2 separate regions of the Homo sapiens genome follow, and region 1 is linked to region 2. A link means that fine-mapping ties the variant in region 2 to the expression of a gene that starts in the linked region. Tissue or cell type: whole blood. Region 2 holds a variant in brackets; the other region holds the start of a gene. All regions are shown on one strand. Distances are between the middles of the regions.

Region 1 (9,224 bases), 24 kb before region 2:
GATGTGGGGAAATCAGAACCCTCATAAATTGCTAGTGAGAATGTAAAATGATGCAGCACTTTGGAAAACAGTTTGATAGTTTCTCAAAATGTTAAACATAGTACGATATCACTCAGCAATCCCACTCTTTTGTGTCTACCCAAGAGACATGAATGCATGTCCACAAAAAAAAAACTTGCACATGAATGTTCATAGCAACATTATTCATAACAGCCAAAAAGTGAAAACAACTCAAGTGTTCATCAACTGAGATTTGGATAAACAAAATGTTGTATACCCACACAGTGGAATATTATTTGGGCATAAAAAGGAAAGAAGTACTAAAGTATTCTATGCCTTAGTTCATTTGCTGTTGCTTAAACAGAACACTTGAACCTGGGTAATTTATAAAGAAAAGAAATTCACTTCTTACAGTTATGAAGGCTGAGAAGTCCAAAGTCTAGGGATCACATCTGGTGAGGACCTTCTTGCTGGTGCGGACTCTCTGCCAAGTCCCAAGGTGACACAGGACATTACATGGCAAGGTGGCTGAGAGTGCTAGCTCAGGTCCCTCTTCCTCTTCTTATAAAGCCACAAGTCTCTCTCTTGTGATAACCCATTAATCCATTAACCAATTAATCCATTAATCCATGAGTGGATTAACCACCTCTGAAAGACCCCACCTCTCAGTACTGCCATATTGGAGATTAAATTTCAACATGAGTTTTGGAGAGGACAAATATTTGAACCATATATTGTATGATTCCATTTGTAGAAAATGTCCAGAAGAGGAAAATCTATAGAGACAGAAACTAGATGAGTGGTCATCTAGGGCTGGTAGGTGGGGACAAATGAAGAATGATACCTAATAAGCATGGTGTTTTTTGGGGTGGTGACAAAAAGTGTTAAAAAAAAATAGATTACAAATTACATAATTCTGTAAATACACTAAAACCCATTGAATTGTACACTTTAAGTGAGTGAACTTTCTGATATGTAAATTATACCTTAATAATTTTTTTTAAAGAGAGGGAATAAAATGAGAGAAATCTAAGTCAACAAGTATAGACAAGTCTTCCAAGGAATTCCTTGCATTCATAAAGGTTTGGTTTTAATTACCAGCATTTAACTGCATTTGTTGTAGCAAAGGAGGAGGATGCTCCACTTCACGTAGAGACCAGGGAAGTGCCATTGTACTTACTTCTCTGTATCTCCAAGTGGATATTTTTCCCAGTTCTCTGATTTTATTTTCACTGTTAGTATCAACCCCAGAGCATATAACCCAAGAATCTGTGTCTCACTTAAGCTTACTGATCATTTCTGCTTCTTTTCTTTATTTTTCTGTTCACATTATCCTGATAGGATGCAGGGTGAAGAAATAATCAGCCTCTGTTCATCTTATTAGAGAAATAAATACCTGTGTATATGAAGCAAGCAAGGCCACTGAGTCTTTGGGGAAACAGAGCAGGGAGGTGCCCAGAGGCATTTTCTGCAGAGAAGGAAGAAAAGAATAAACAAGTCTTCTGCCAAAAATGCCTGGAACTTAAAGCGATTTCCTCAGCCCAAGATCAGGCTGTGTGCAGACACTGACAGTGAACCTGATCAGTTGCTGCTGCTCCCTTGATTAAAAGCATGTAGCTTTCTCTCTTGTGAAATTCACCTCTATAAATTCCACCTGCCTAGGGATTCAAACTACATGGAACAAGTGCAATTCCTCAGAGTGGCAACTGGCAGAGCTCCCAGGAACAAGGTAGAACTACACAATGTCCCAGGCATCAGAGGCATAGATTGCCTGAGTCAGGGAGAGTGGTCTCTGTGACCTGACACCCCACCCACAGTGGGAAGGAAAGCTGTGGGTGTGTTATCAAGGAGGCCTCCACAAGGGGCTGGAAATTCCTGGTTTTGTCTTCCTCTTGGAATGAGACATTTACTCTAAGAGAATCATGGAAAAGTACAAACCACAGAATCATAAACCACAGAGGGAGAAGCTACCTCGTAGGTCATTCTTATGCTGGGCCCAGATACCCCGATAAGCAGATGTTCTCTTCTCACCACCCCTCCTCGCCTTTGCTTGCCCACAGCCATTGCCAGGACTCTTCCTCAGGCCCAGAAAGGCAGCTGATTCCTGGTAGGAGGGCGCTAAGAGTAGAAAGTAACTACCATTGTCAGGTCCAGATCTGTTCCCAATCCCTTCTCACTCCTCCTGCACTCTAAAACCACACCACAGTTCCAACTCTTTCTGAGTCTGGAATCTTTGAGAGTGCCGTCATGTCCTTCTTCCTGTAGCCTTCTTGTCCACCCCAGATGGACTGACCCTCCCACCTACATCCATGAGGCCAGAAGGCAACAAAGACAAGCGTGGACTCTGGCTCCCGCCGAGGTACTCTGTACCCCGTGGCTCTCGGATTTTGCATCTACCACATGCCACAGGCTTGCGTCCATCCGACCTCCCTAGTTTCTCATCCCCACTTGAACCTGATGACTGATTCGCCCTCCTGGCTACGCTGAGTAAGCCACCCACTTGCCAAACCTCAGACCTGGTGTTGACGCAGTAAGAAGGCATGAGGCCCATGTTGCCAGAACATTCCTAATTGTTTCATTGTTTCCTTGTAGGATGTGGTTTCAAGTCCCATCTTTGTCTCTTTTCTCCTGGCCAGGTTGCCCTTGGTCAATATTCCTTCATTCACTCCAGCCACTCAGCACCGTGATTAAGAAAACAGGATGTGAGATTAGATGATCCAGGCTCTGCCATGAACTAACTAGCTGTGAGGCTTTAGAGAAGTGTCTTAACCTCTCTGAGCATCCATTTCTTTCTCTATAGCATTAGGAATATTAATAGTACCTACCTCACAGCTTTTTTGTTGTGATAATACCAATAAATGAAATAATCTTCATAAAGCACAGAGGCTTGAATGTTCACTCTAAGTATTTAATATGTGTCCTCTACTATTTTATTTTACAATTATCATTCCTTAATTCATCATATAATTACCAAGCCTCATGCCAGGCACTGAGATATAAATATCCCCTTTAAAGAGTGGTCATGTCTTAAATCCAGGAAGAGCTAGTTCATGTTGGCACCCAGGGTAGGGAGCGAAGCCCAGGGCCACAGCACAGAGGCAGAGGAGAATAGACACTGACCACCAGGAGCTGCCCGGGGATGGTGACAAAAGTGCCTTCCACCTTTCCGCATCTCTTTCAATACCACTGCAACTCCTTGAGTAAGGTGGGCACCACACAGAAGAAGGGGGATGGCAGAGGGGCAGTGAGAGGTCCCCAGGGAAACACCCTCTTCTTCTTCCCTGCTTCTCTGACAGAGCACGGCCATGCCTCTGCCATGCAGGAGGGTGATGTCCTTTGGGGAGGCCTTGTTGAATCTGTCTGGGGCTGTTCCGGAAGTAGGAAGGGCGGCTGGGGGTGGGGAGACGGCAGGAATGTTCTCCTGGCCTGCTGGTCTGTGCCGGCGAGTGTGCTGAGAGGAGGGCCTCTGGACATCAAAGGTTCCTTTTGTCCCCTTCCGAGTGGCAGGGCAGCCCGGCCCGGGCTGCTGGCGATGACTCAGGCCTGGCCCTGACGTCACCCACGCCCGGCCACTGGCCTCCCTCTGAAGCCAGGAAACTAGTTGGGGAGTGGCACTCGCAGCTGCAGCAAATCTCAAAATAAAGAGGCAACGGCCTTTCTCTTCCTCTCCATCTCCCTATAGCACACCTTTTATTTCTTTTCTTCTTTTTTTTAAGCCTCACGAAAGATTTTACTTGTAGATCAACTTTCAAAATGTAGGAAGTCAGAATGGGTGACATCATCAGAAAAATATGTGGAGCTGATCACAAGAAGTGAAGAACCCAGAGCACGAAAGCGGTTGTGACTCCTGGGCCCAGGGAGTTGACAGCGTCTGGGTTTCAGAGGAGCCAGCGCCTCCGAGTAAGTGAAGGCCCACTTTTGGCCCCCCCTCACTCAGCGCCCTTCACCGTAGGGCGCCATCTTGTTCCCTGACGCCTACAGCTTGCCAAGCCCCAGCCCAGAGTTGGGAGTAGGGACTGCATTTGGGAGACCCTCTAAATACGGCCCCAAAGGGATCTGATATCTCTCTCCACAGGATCAGAAAAGAATGCAAAAAAAAAAAAAAAAAACAATACTAAGACGGAAACCCTGGGGAGAACAGCCCAACTGATGCCTTTCCCTGTCAACCCTCTTGTTTTGCCTCCTCTTCCTCCCCTCACCTGAGTATTCCGTTTCAGGCTGTCAGAATGTTTGTTCAGAGTTCTGGATTGTTTGCTTCCTAGATCTTATACTGAGCGATCAGACATAAAAATAAACCCTGTTCTAGGCAAATACGTGTCCTGTGCCATCAAATGGTATTTTCACACTTAACCTGGTAAAATATGACAGCCCTGGTAAAAAGATGTACATAATTGTGCTGCCTTTACTGAGCACGTTTCTGATTGTTCTGTGTATGAACCTCCATTATCTTATCGCCCTGTTTACAGAGGACTTATTTTCATTCCTACTTGTGCCATCGTATCTGGGATGATATTAAGCACAAAGACACAATGTGTCTGTTTTAACTTTGTCTAAAAACTCATAGTTCTTTACAAAGCCTATAATTTCACGACCTCTGGAAGTTCCTACCCAAGAAAGTTAAGTTCCCAAGAGAAAAGTTTTGACACATACATGAGAACAGCACGTAGGCATAGAAATCATACCCTGATTTTCCCGGCTTCTAAGTCATCCCCTGAGTCAGCATCTAGTCTTCGTATAGCTGACGTACCAGGGGAGATCTGTTCTTCAGAAATTCTATGTTAAAATGACTGGGAGCGGGGAGGCGTAAGTCTCATTTTAAAGGCAGTAAGGAAGCTTGTCATTTACTGGAAAACAGTGGCATATTCCTTTGTAAATGGACAACTCCCTTTGGAAATTAACTATCACACACTAAAATATCTGTTTTATAGGCCTTATGTTTTACTTTTTGTTTTACTTTAATATATTAGGTTGTCTTGAAGTGAGGCTCTGCTGTAGTCCTGTTCTTCTGGCTCTAAGATCTGAATGTTGTGACCACTAATTTGGTAAGTGTCATTTGTCCCCAACAGCTACTTAAATTTAAGTCTCCCAATTCTCCTTTTTTAGTTTGTGGTAAGATTCAAAGAAAAGGGGAAAGGGCACAGAGATTTCTGTACACAATGATTACAGCTATATTAAAAAGGATATTAGGATAGGCTAATTGTTATAATAGAACCCCAAATCTATAATGGCTCAAACACAATAGTTTATTTCTTGCTCATGTAACAGTACAGGTCAGTGGGGCAACTGTCTTTCATGCATTCATTCAGAGACACAGGTAGAGAGGGGCTTTGCCTTCTGCAGCATGTGGTTTTCAAGGTCGCCTAGGGGTGTCTCCACTCCTCAGTGCAGTAAGAAAAGAGCATGAAAAAGTGCACATGGGAGTTTTTTATGGGCTCTGCCTAGAAGTGGTGCGTGTTACTTCTACTCACATTCCATTGGCTAAAACTCCATCACATGACCACAGCTAACCACAGAGGAGTCTGGGAAATGTAGTCCTTGGTGGAGCAGCCACTTAGCAGTGACAGCTCTGGAGGGGTTTCTGAAGAAGAGGTAGTTCTCTCTGGCACAGCACATAAAAGAAACTTGGAGATACTCAAGGATAAAGTTGCATAGAAACAGTGGGAGAAGTAAACAATTATCCACATTTAGGTTTTCCTGACTGACACTCTTAGGTAACATCTGGCCATGAGGGCAAGATGCAATGGATGAGATTTCTCAACACCTCTGTCCATTATGACCCTAAGCATCATGTTGCCCATGGCCAGTGAACCATGAAGGACATTTTCCTTATTTCCTTTTACTTATTTTTCCTCTCAGGATCCTCTTGGTCTAGGACTATACTGGCTTTCTCTTCTTCCTGGATCTAGTCATATTAGTTGGAATTGTGACAGAATTCTGCTCCCCCAACTATGAGCCCCAGTGGTCTATAGGAAAGCTCTTGACTTCCTTAGCTCGTAGTTTTCTCTGCTACTGGAGGCTTTGGAAATGTATCCTACAGGATCTGCTCCAGGTCTTGGGACATTTGATCAGGGTGAAAATTCCCGAAGGTTAGACCTTTAAACCAAGTTATTAAACTGTTTTTTCTTTTCTTTTCTTTCTTTCTTTTTTTTTTTTTTTTTTTTTTTTTTGAGGCAGAGTCTCACTCTGTTGCCAGGCTGGAGTGCATCGGCATGATCTCAGTTCACTGCAACCTCTGCCTCCCAGGTTCAAGTGATTCTACTGCCTCAGCCTCCTGAGTAGCTGGGACTGCAGGCACGCACCACCACACCCAGCTAATTTTTGTATTTTTAGTAGAGATGGGGTTTCACCATGTTGGCCAGGATGGTCTCCATCTCTTGACCTCGTGATCTGCCGGCCTTGGCCTGCCAAAGTGCTGAGATTACAGACATGAGCCATAGCGCCCAGCCGAGAAACTTTTTTTTTCTTTGAGACAGGGTTTCACTCTGTCACCCAGGCTGGAGTGCAGTGGCACGATCATGGCTCACTGCAGCCTCAACTTCTCAGGCTCAAGCGATCCTCCCAAGTAGCTGAGACTACAGGCATGTGTCACCATGCCTGGCTAATTTTTGTATTTTTTGTAGAAACAAGGTTTCACCATGTTGCCCAGGCTGGTCTTGAACTCCTGGGCTCAAGCAATCCACCACCCACCTTGGCCTCCCAAAGTGCTAGGATAACAGGCATGAGCCACCGGGCCCAGCCGAGAAACATTTAAAAGTAGACTAAAAAGTCTCAGGCTGGGGCTATTAATGCTACCCCAAAAGATGTGATATATATGTCTAGCTTTTTATTTTCAGGAAAAGTTTCAAAACATTTACTGAAATAATAAGTGGTAAAGTTGTAAGCTCTGTTTGGAGAACTTTTAATAAGTTTAACATTTTATGTAACCTTCTAACCATTGTTGATGTTGGTGAAGTATTCCCCTCATTCGTAAATATAAACCATATGATGGGTGCCTTGTGATGCCCCAGACTTAAAGGTGTGAAATAAAAATGAACTCAAGTCTTTGCCTGAGGTGCCTGGTACCTAGTTCTCTAGTTTTGTCAATATCTGACTAAACACTCTGGTTTCTGATTGACTTTTGCCCCTGGACTTGACCTTTCTGGCACCCACATCCACACCCTGAAGAGCATGTATTGTCTGTTGTGTGGGGATACCTGTTACTGGCCAATTTGCCACAGCTTCTCAGATATCTGACAGAGGCTGATGCCTGGCCTACTCTCCTGTTATGGCTGCCTAGCCTCTGCCCAGTCCCCTTACATTAGGATGGAGCTGAGGAGGAATGGAATAGAATAACAAGATGAGTTGCTGCAAAAATACTTCAGCCTCTGAAAGTCTGTCTTTCCAAGTTGTTAGGAACTGAAAGTGTCTATTGATCGGGGAGCTGGCTGGGCTAGTGGTATAAGCTAATGATAAGACCAGGTTGGGCTGGGCATGGTGGCTCATGCCTATAATCCCTGCACTTTGGGAGGCCGAGGCAGGTGGATCACTTGAGGTCAGGAGTTCAAGACCAGCCTGACCAACATGGTGAAACCCCATCTCTACTAAAAAAAAATACAAAATTAGCCGAGCAGGGTGGCGCACACCTATAATCCCAGCTACTTGGGAGGCTGAGGCAGGGGAATTGCTTGAACCTGGGAGGCAGAGGTTGCAGTGAACCGAGATCACACCACAGGACTCCGGCCTGGGCAACAAGAGAGAAACTCCATCTCCAAAAAAAAAAAAAAAGACCAGGTGAATGGGGAATACAGTGCCTGCTAGAAGGGTGCAGTTGAAGGAATAAGTTAAGAATATGTGCCAGATTTCAAAAGCTGGAGCCAAATGGGGATGATGTGTTGCTGGAAGTCCTAGCCTAACAGAGTCTTTCAGGAAGGGCAGAGCCAAAGGTCTCAGTCAACATCAGGGTCCATTCATGTGGGAGAATGGCTAATCACAGCTTGCTAATTTCAACTACCATCTGTTATGACTCCTCAAAGCACTAAGTATGCAGTAGTTGACATATGAATGGTGTTAGGGTTGGGGGAGGGGGCCAGCCTCCTGATTTCTAATTTCTAGCTGCATATTACTACAGGAAGGGGAGTAAGACCACCACATCAGGTACCAGAATTTCACTACTGTCAACACTTTGTGTTTGAAAGAAAGCCATAGATCCCTGTGACCACTGGATGCTGAGTGACCTCACAGACAACATCAGCAAAGCAGGATTGTGTACAAACACACATTTTGTAAATATTTTGATATTTGACATTTCAAAAAAAGCATCAAAGGAGACAGCCTGGGAAAAGTTAGACTTTGTTGAGCTTTCTCAACCTTAATTTTGTATTTTGTTATTTTTTTCTATTTTAATTTCACATGGGAGTAATAATTCAAATTTGAGGCACTATAGTCTTTTCAGAGCTTAGGTCATCTAAAGATCTGAGCCTGGCCTTGTTGAGCCATGATGAGCAGATGTGGACTGAGCACACAGTCTCACACAGGCAGCTCTTACACTAGTTGAGTATTTTAATCCCTGAGGTTTTAGAATTGTCATAGCACAGGTGTGCAAGCTCCTTTCTCCCCATGGGTCAGCATCATGAATGTTCTGTCACTCTCCTTAGAGAGTTTTGCAGAAATACCACATCATATTCACCAAAACTAAGAATTCATAGTAATAGGGCTTTATAATTTCTCACACTGAAATCCCCTAATTTCTTGTCAAGAACCAAGTTGGAAAATACCACACTTCAGGGTTTTGTTTTTAACTCAAGAAGCTTCTGGTTTTCATCAGAACTTTAAAGCTCCCTCCTACCTCCAAAATAGTATTGTTAGAAAATGTAATGCTGAGACTCTGTCAGAATAAGTAGGTGATATATGCAAAATGATATGGGCAACTTAGAAAAGTGCATGTCAAGGTAAACTGCTGATAAAGGCCGGGAGTGGTGGCTCACACCGGAAATCCCAGCACTTTGGGAGGCTGAGGTGCGCAGATTGCTTGAGGCCAGGAGTTCAAGACCAGCCCAGCCAAAATCGTGAAGCCCTGCCTCTACTAAAAATACAAAAATTAGCTGGGCTTGGTGGCACATGCCTGTAATCCCAGCTTCTTGGGAGGCTGAGGTATGAGAATTGGTTGAACCCAGGAGGCGGAGGTTGTGGTGAGCCACGACTGGGCCACTGTACTCCAGCCTAGGCAACAGAGGAAAAAAAAAAAA
Region 2 (9,224 bases):
AGAACCTGTTTCCTTGGTAACCAAATCGTATTTAAACATGTAATAACAGATATGCAAAAGAATGTCTTTAAAAAGGAAACAAATGTTTAATGAAAAATTTACAGTTCTTTTTCCTCTCATATAGAATCTGAACTGGTTTTAGATGGTTTTTAATGCGGTCTTCAAGCCTTAAAAATTAAGCCATGTTTCTAAACATATAGAGAAAGCTTGCACAGTGACAGCTTTTCTCTCCCTCCTTTGTGCTCAGTACTTTCAAAATTAAGGTTTTCTTTGCAGTATGCTCCAGAATGCAGGTCAAGGTTTGTGTACAGAGGTGTAGTTTCATTATCACAAGTTCACCAGCGCCACTGAAACAAAAGGTATTTCAGAAATTCTGAGAATCAGAAAATGCTTGTACTCTTGCCTTCCCTGATCCCTCCGTTGGTAACCTCAGTGCTGTCGGTAGAAAAGGACCCACATCCAAGCCTACCCCTCCAATGACAAGTGCACCCTGAACCTTTGTGGAAATATCTCTATAGGTGTGTTAGGAAGATGGTGCTAAACCTGAAACCTCCCCGAGGTTTGCTTCAATGTGAAGAACATTGAGATTCAAAACCATCTGTGTAAATGGCTGCTTTATTCTAGCAGTTTAACTAATATTCTATTCCATAGCACTATCGTAGAATTGAACCTCTCTAATGGGCTGAAGGGTGGTGGTGGTTGTTGTCATGTTGTTTTGTGGCCAACTAAAATATTTTGCTTGGAGTCTTTCTCTGGTTCAATTATTTTGGAACGTGATTCATCTCATACTGATTTTGTTCTCCAGGCTTGCCATGAAATACCCTTCCTGCAACACCTTTTTTTTTTTTTTTTTTGGCTGTTGGGAGCCATTTTCCTTCTTGCCTGTGACTTTAAATGACTAAGTACATTTTGAATATAGTATCAATCAGAAGATTGTAAACTGAAGGGAAATATCAGAAACCTGATTCAATATTGCCTATTTTTTTTAGTACCAACAGCATTAACAGTTGCAATAGGATCAAGCTAATTGTCATTCGCTCTTGAGCAAATAATGAGCCAGGCATTTATAATTAAAACACTACTGCTAGTCAGAAAGCTTATAACTACAATGTCTTCTATTTTGATAGGCCAGTACAAAGTAATCATTTTGCACCTATTTGAATCTTAATTACAAGATTAGATGGATGCAATGCAATTGTTTTACCATTAAAATGAATGCCTGATAGATTCAACAGTGTATTTCTTCTTTATAGAATGTCGATTCTTTTGTTTGTGACTCAAGCATGGTTGCGTCATCTTGTAGATTTTCATACTTAATGGCGTTTTTTTGTGGCATTATTCACTTATGTTGCTCTTAGTCTTGCCTAAAAGAATTTTAAACCCAATTCAAGGATCTAGAAAGCCAAATAAGATTGTTGGGAAGTGTATCGTACCATCGTCATTCTAATAAATAAACCAGTGAATAGAATAATAATTACTATATATTACTTCGTTGTGTTTCACCTTAATACTTTGCCTTCATATTTCACAGCAATCTTGACAAGGCACAAAGCTTTCCTAAACTTACCCATTTACAATTATTATTGAATTTCCAAGATTAGCTGAAAATGCTTCTTGATGATTGTAGAGGATGGCACTTACCCCATCTCATTGTTTGAAAAGCTATCCTGAACCCATTTACACTTTTTGGCTCCGGTATTTTTACTGGGCAGGCCAGAGCAGGTGTGACAGCAAGACTGTGCAAACAATTGCACTGTTCTCACCAAAACAAAATGGGCAAATATGTGGTTTTCTGTTGGAATGATTTATAATATAAAATACTATAATATTTATAATACTATAATACCAAGATTGCATCTCTTGCCATAATACTAGAGTGGTATTGATCTACCCCATCCATTTCCATGGATCCCCCGGAGATGGACTGGGAATCAGACTATGACTTAGAGCCTCTTCACTGTTATGTGAGAAGAATCTAGAAAGAGATCTAGCACTTTCTCTTTAGTACTAGGTCATGCTAAGTCTTTAAGTTCCTGGTACCATGTGGTTCATTCTAACAGCTCCTTTCCAAGGGAAATCCTGTTCTTAACAGCTCTCTTGGTAAATAAACAGTCAACACATTTATTGAGCATCTGCTACATGCCAGGCATATTCCAGAGGACGGGAGGGTGCTTGCAGGGAGGGGAATAAGCAAAAATATAGATGTAAATAAAGAAGGCAAGTGCACAGAGGAAAATTAAAAATTTTAAAATGAAAGTGGGCCAGGCACAGTGGCTCATGCCTGTAACCCCAACACTTTGGGAAGCCAAGACGGGAGGATTGCTTGAGACCAGGAGTTTGAGACCAGCCTGGGCAACATAGCAAGACCCCATCTCCACAAAAAATTTTAAAAATTAACTGGACACGGTGGCTGGTGTGCACCTGTAGTCCTAGCTATGCCGGAGGCTGAGGTAGGAGTATTACTTGAGCCCAGGAGTTCGAGGTTGCAGTGAGCTAGAATCATACTACTGCACTCCAGCCTGGGCAAAAAAGCAAGACTCTTTCTCTAAAAAAAAATTAAAATTAAAAAAAATAAAATAAGTGAGGGTTATGTGGTTCTAGGGAGGAGAGCCACTTTAAAATGGTTGATCAGAATGTTCTGAGGATGTAGCATTTAAGTGAAGATCGTGTGCTGAGAAGGATCTAGTCAGGTGAAGATCTGACGTGGGGCATTACCAGGAGAGGAGTGCTCATGCTCAGCCTTCAAACTTTCCTTTCTTTGTGTAAATGTTGCTATCTCAGAGCCAGGTCTGACAGTTTCAAGGACTGAGGCTTAACTTAGGTAAGCTTCCCCTACAGTAAGAGGATGGCCCAGGTCCCTGTGACTGGTTTTAGCCAGTCAAACTCCCAGAGTCTGGTACTCATGGGGTCATTGCCTTTGACCCCGTCACGACCCTGAAACTGCTTCAGAAGGTAGAGTACATTGCAGTGCTAGGTGGTGATGAAATTCTGGCACAGATTCAGTGTCAACCCAAGAAATGCACAGAAGAAAGACCTCTCAGAGTAGAGAAATTTCTGAGAAGCCTCTTGCTTTATTTTTCATAAGAATTCTGGAATTTAAACCAATGGCAAAACATTGAGATAGTCATTGAATTTTTTTCAAAGGCAAAATGGTGGAAGGGTTTGTCTCATCTCATCTCATCTGGCCAGTAGATTGTCTTAGTCCTAAAATGCCTCCCATCAGAGTGAAGTTTTTTTCAGGTTTTGCTAAAACGCTTCAGCTCTGCACACATCTTTGCCTGTTGGTGGCTTTCTAAAGAACTAGTGAGGTTTTTTTTCCTCTATTAGAGCAAGTCATTCTTTAAAAAATTCTTCTTAAGAACCAGAACTCTTTCATGCTTTTCAGGTTATTCTGTTGACAAAGGTCAGGGAACAAAGGGAGAAGTTTGCTATGTGAGTTAGAAACTATAAGGCTCTTTTGAGCCTTCTAAACATTTCAGAAGCACCGTCTAAAATTGATTCATTACTTAGCTGACTTTGCTTATCACAGTAGAGGCGGCCTGGCTGGCATGTTATACTTCGTTGGGTTTTGAGAGGCCCTGAAACATTCCACAACATGAAGACAAGCTTGTTCGGTTCCTTTGTAGTAGAGTGGGGAAGGGGGCTGGTGGTAAAGGGGCTCTCTGCCCATTAGTGGGGAAGGGGACTGCAACAATTCAGTTTACTTCTTTGAGCATTTGTTGAGCATCTGCTATGTGCCAAACACTGCTATAAGCCAAGCAGAATGAAATATGACATAGTCCCCCTATGAAACTGCAGTCCAGGTTCCCACACAAGGGTAGAGCATTGTATGGACAAGTACAATTGTGTATCCTCCCTGTTCCAGGAAGAAATAAATGGCATGCTGTTCTCTTAATGGCCTTTTATACTGTTCGCTAGAGGCCATCCCTCAGTTTGGGGCATTTCAGCTGATGACAAGGACAGTTCTTCACTTGGACTTTGTGTCTTGACCTCACCACCTTCCCGAGATGTCTTGGCTCCTAATAAGCCACCGTATGTCTGGCTGCCCTTCTTCAAGCTGGTCCGCCTGCATTGCCAGGTGACCTCAATAACGGCTGCCACTTTTGCATTCATGAGCAGATGTTAAGTTGAGAAGCCCTCAAATGCAAAAATTTGAATTTGTGATGTAGGCAAGATGTTTTTGCTTTCTTACCTTCCCTGGTTGACAGTGGGGGGTCTCCATGCTGGCTGTTCTGCAGAAGGCTTTCCGGGCAGCAGGTAAATCAGAGACCAGTTGCAAAATCAATTGTCTTTGTTAGGTGATCCCAGCATGCCACTGCCTTAGCCTAAATGTCTCATTGACCAGAAAATTGCTCTTTTGATCTCATAACTCATTTTGCACTTTTTCCCCCTTAATGTTCTCCTTGCTTCTGCAGCAATTCCTGCTCAGGGTTCAAGACTGAACACTCCCTATGTTTGGCCTGTGGAGGGAGTTTGTTTTCTGGTGCTGTTTGGTTTGAAAATTGCCAGTGTAAATATTCTTTCTGTGCTCATGAAAAGCAGTGGAGGCTTTCATTATATGCTTTCTACAATAAAACAATCCTCTTCCTTACTCTGTGGTCATTGCTGCCAAATGGATATTTTGAAATTTCTTTTCCTCTTGCTTGCTAAAATCTCCCACCCTGTCTGAGGCCTTGCTCTAATTAAGGCCTGACAGTCCTGCCGACCTTCCC[C/T]AGCGCTGAGCATGACGTAGAGTCCCTGCCCTGAGGGCCTTACAAGCCAGTGAAGCCAGAAAACAAAAGCCACCAGCTGAGAGTGTGGTTAAATCCCAGAAGGGCAGTGCCCTTGTCATTTTTTTTTCCTTTTCTCTTGTTTCTTGAACTGAGGAAGGGAAGAGAGGAACCTGGAGCAGGGAAAGGAAGGAACTACACCATGGAAAGATTCTCTGAAGTACTCAGGGTACTGGGGAACAGTGCGGAAGAGAATGGGGTGGTCATCTGGGAAGCAAAATGGGGAGCTGGCTGTAGATAGAGAGGGCAGCATGGGGGCAGGGTGAGGATGCAGAAGATAAGAAAGAGGGAACAAAGGAAGCAGTCAGGAGGCAGCCAGGGGGACAAAAGGAGATGCCGCTCTGCTGCGCCATGGAGCTGGGGGAACAAGGTACCAGGGAGAAAGTGGGAAGGGGTTGCAACTAGAAAAAGAAGGCTCAGGAGAGACCTTAAATGCAGGTTGCAGGCCTACGGCATACAGACTGGGTGCTATGATGTACTCTCTGGCTTCGCTCATAATGTTGGCCTTGCTACTTAATGGCCCCACGTTGGCGATTGTGAAGCGCCTACAGATTGATGTCCTTAAAGGTGATTTATTTACTACAGAGTCATAAGAACTTTCCATTTCTTTTTTTTTTCTTTCTTTCTTTTCTTTCTTTTTTTTTTTTGAAACGGAGTCTTGTTCTGTTGCCAGGCTGGAGTGCAGTGACGCAATCTCAGGTCACTGCAACCTCCGCCTCTTGGGTTCAAGTGATTCTTCTGCCTCAGCCTCCTGAGTAGCTGGGACTACAGGCATGCACCACCATGCCCATCTAATTTTTGTATTTATTTTTTTTAGTACAGACGGGGTTTCACCATGTTGGCCAGGATGGTCTCAATCTGTTGACCTCGCGATCCGCCCGCCTCAGCCTCCCAAAGTGCTGGGATTACAGGCGTGAGCCACCGCGCCCAGCCTGAACTTTCCATTTCTCTCCCAAGTCTCCTATTCTACATGCTGAGGATGCCAGAGGGTCCCCTTACCACCACTCCTCACCACCCCCTACCACCCTCCTCCCCATCACTGTACTAGATCTGAATTAAACATTAAATGAAATAAGCAGACTTTTTATTCATGCTATGTGATCAAGTGCTTTTGGTCATCTACAAAGCACAGACTGAAGACCTACCCAAAATACTTGCTGTACACTGCAGATTTTAGAAATTATTTTCCCCAAAGTCAGGTTGCCCACTGCAGGCATGCTAGTTTGCTCTGGGAGCCCCCAGAGCCTTCCTCTTCCTTCCTTCACCAGCCTATCCAGCCCCTAGTCTGAGTGCCTGTGGAGCCATCCTCAAAGGATATTCTGATTGTTTGAATCGCTTGGTCTCCAGGAGAACCACACCTGGCTGGCATACCAGCATTTAGCACTGCATCATCCCTGTACTTCCTGCTAAGCTCTTATGGGAATCTGAACTACACGTTTCTGTTGCCTTATTGATTTTAGACTCTATACTCTATCTTTGAGGGAATCATGGCCCAGAGAAGATGGGACTTCTTAAGGTCTCTCGGAGAGTTAAGTGGTGGAATGAAACCAGGCATGACTCCTAGACCAGTGCTCTTTTGACTAAAGCTGCCTTGAGGTCACAGGGAAAGCCCAAATTCTAAACCAGAGGCTGACAAACTTTTTCTGTAAAGAATCAGACAGCAAATACTTTAGGCTTTATGGCATGAAAAAACAAATTTTCAACAAATTGAGTTTAAAGATCTACTTGGTTTTTATTAGCAATTCGTGAATCAGGCAGCACGCTATCTATAACAAATAGGAAGGTATTCTGTTGGGCATGGCAGAACAATTGGTTTTTATAAGGTAGCTTAGGCAGGAACAAGGAAATAACATAATACAAAAAGCAGATTGGTTAACATCAGGTTACTGCAGGTAATTTTCCTTATAAAGGTTAAAGCAGAGGGGACTGCTTTATCATTCTGGCTAAAATTGGCCTATTATCTCTCTCCTAATTTCTCAAGTCGGATAAACAACTTCATTTCAGTTTGGTGATGTGGAACTTTAGCGTGAGTGACTCCATTTTGGTTTGGTCTCTTGGGGCTTAGTGCAGGAGCCAGTCTAAATCAATGGCCTTCTATACATTTAGTTTAACAGTGGGTCAAGACAAAACTGAAGATACTTCGTAGGTATTTATATAACAAGTGACAAAGCAAATTTTCATAAATTTTGTATTATGAAATTCAAAATACAATAATATATAATATTAAGTATAGTAATAATGATATACTATCATTCACAGATACAGAAATGAATGAATGTGACTGTGTCTCAAAACTTCACTTATAAACTCTAAAATCTGCATTTCATATAATTTTCACATCATGAAATACTGGCATACCTCAGATGTCACAGGTTCGGTTCCAGGCTACTTCAATAAAGCGAATGTTGCAATAAAGCAAGGTGCACAAACTTTTTAGTTTCCCGGTGCATATAAAAGTTGTGTTTGCATTATACTGTAGTCTATTAAGTGTGTAGTACCATTATGCCTTAAAAATGTATATACCTTAGTTTAAAAATAATTTGTTGCTAAAATATGCTACTGATGTCTGAGCCTTCAGCAAGTCATAATCTGTCTGCAGATGGAGGGTCTTGCCTGGATGTTGAAGGCTGCTGACTAATCAGTGTTGTGTTGCTGAAGGTTGGGGTGGCGATTTCTTAAAATAAAACAACAGTGAAGTTTACTGCATTTATTGACTTTCACAAAAGATTTCTCTTTAGTTTGTGGCACTGTTTGATAGCATTTTACCCACAGTAGAAATTTCTTTCAAAAGTAGAGTCAGTCTTCTGAAACTTTGTCCTTGCTTCATCAACTAAATTTATGTAATATCATATATCCTTTGTTGTCATTTCAACAAGGTTCACAGTGTCTTCACCTGGAATAGATTCCACCTCAAGAAACCAGTTTCTTTGCTCATCCATAAGAAGCAACTCCTCATCTGATCAAGTTTTATAATAAGATTGCAGAAATTCAGTCTCATCTTTAGGCTCCACTTCTAGTTCTTATGCTATTTCCACCACATCTGCAGTTACTTCCTCCACTGAAGTCTTGAATCTCTCAAAGTCATCCATGAGGGTTGGAACCAACATCTTCCAAACTCCTGGTAATGTTGATATTTTGACCTCCTTCCATTAATCATGAATGTTCTTAATGGCATCTAGAATGGTGAATCCTTTCCCAAAGGTTTTCAATTTGCTTTGCCCAGATCCATCAGAGCAATCACTGTCTATGGCAGTTATAGCCTTATGAAATATATTTTTAATAAGACTTGAAAGTCAAAATTATTCTTTGATCAGGACTACAGAATGGATGTTGTGTTAGCAGGCATGAAAACAACATTTATCTCCTTGTACATGTCCATCACAGTTCTTGGGTGACCAGGTATATTGTCAATGAGCAGTAATATTTTGAAAGAAATCTTTTCTCTGAGCAGTAGGTCTCAACAGTGGGCTTAAAATATTCACTAAACTAGATCTGCTGTCATCTAGTCATTGTTGTTCCATTAATAGAGTACAGGCAGAGTAGATTCAGCATAATTCTTAAAGGTCCTAGGATTTTCATAATGGTCAATGGGCACTGGCTTCAACTTAAAGTCACCAGCTTCATAAGCCCCTAATTGAAGTTTTGAAGCCAGGCATTGATTTCTCCTCTCTATTTATGAAAGTCCTAGGTGACATCTCCTTCCAATAGAAGGCTGTTTTGTCTACATAGGAAATCTGTTGTTTAATGTAGCCACCTTCATCAATTGTCTTAGCTAGATCTTCTGGATAACTTGCTGTAGCATCCACATCAGCACTTACTTCACTTTGCACTTTTATGTTATGGAGACAGCTTCTTTTTCACACTTCATGAACCAACCTCTGCTTGCTCCACATTTTTCTTCTGCAGCTTCCTTACCTCTCCTAGTCTTCCTAGAATTGAGGAGAGTTAGGGCCTCACTCTGGATTAGGCTTCGGCTAAAGGGAATGTTGTGGCTCGTTTGATCCTGTATCCTGACCACTCATTCTTTCTCCAGATCAGCAATAAGGCTTTCTTATCATTTCCGTGTTCATTGGAGTATCCCTTTTAATTTCCTTCAGGAGCTTTTCCTTACAACTTGGCTAAATGCTTAGCACAAGAGGGCTAGCTTTTGGCCTGTCTTGACTTTCGACATACCTTCCTCATGAAGCTTAATCATTTCTAGCTTTTGATTTAAAGTGAGAAATGCTCAATTCTTCCTTTCACTTGAACACTTAGAGGCCATTGTAAGGTTAATTGGCCTAATTTCAGTATTTTTGTAGATGAGGAAATATGGAGGCCCAAGGAGAGGAAGAGAGGTAGGGAATGGCCAGTCAGTGGAACAGTCAGAACATAAACATTTATCAATAAAGTTCGCCATCTTATATGGGCGTGGTTCATGGCACCCCAAAGCAATTACAATAGTACCATCAAAGATCA

Evidence for each region.
Region 1: it holds the start of ZBTB38, and the variant in region 2 is fine-mapped to the expression of ZBTB38 in whole blood (TOPMed, PIP above 0.99).

Annotation. Positions count from the first base shown.
Region 1 is chr3:141,364,905-141,374,128 of GRCh38, forward strand. ZBTB38 (zinc finger and BTB domain containing 38) reads left to right here and starts at 3,600. Exons shown (of 6, transcript NM_001376113.1): 1 at 3,600-3,900; 2 at 4,968-5,042. RefSeq lists enhancers at 2,399-3,174, 3,002-4,201, 3,267-3,496, 3,951-4,726, 8,004-8,053 and 1 more.
Region 2 is chr3:141,388,614-141,397,837 of GRCh38, forward strand. The region is part of intron 4 of ZBTB38 (zinc finger and BTB domain containing 38); the gene reads left to right. Among named protein-coding and RNA genes, the nearest start is that of ZBTB38, 25 kb to the left of the region's middle. RefSeq lists enhancers at 4,333-4,942, 4,943-5,553. The variant C/T (reference allele first, on the strand shown) is at 4,713.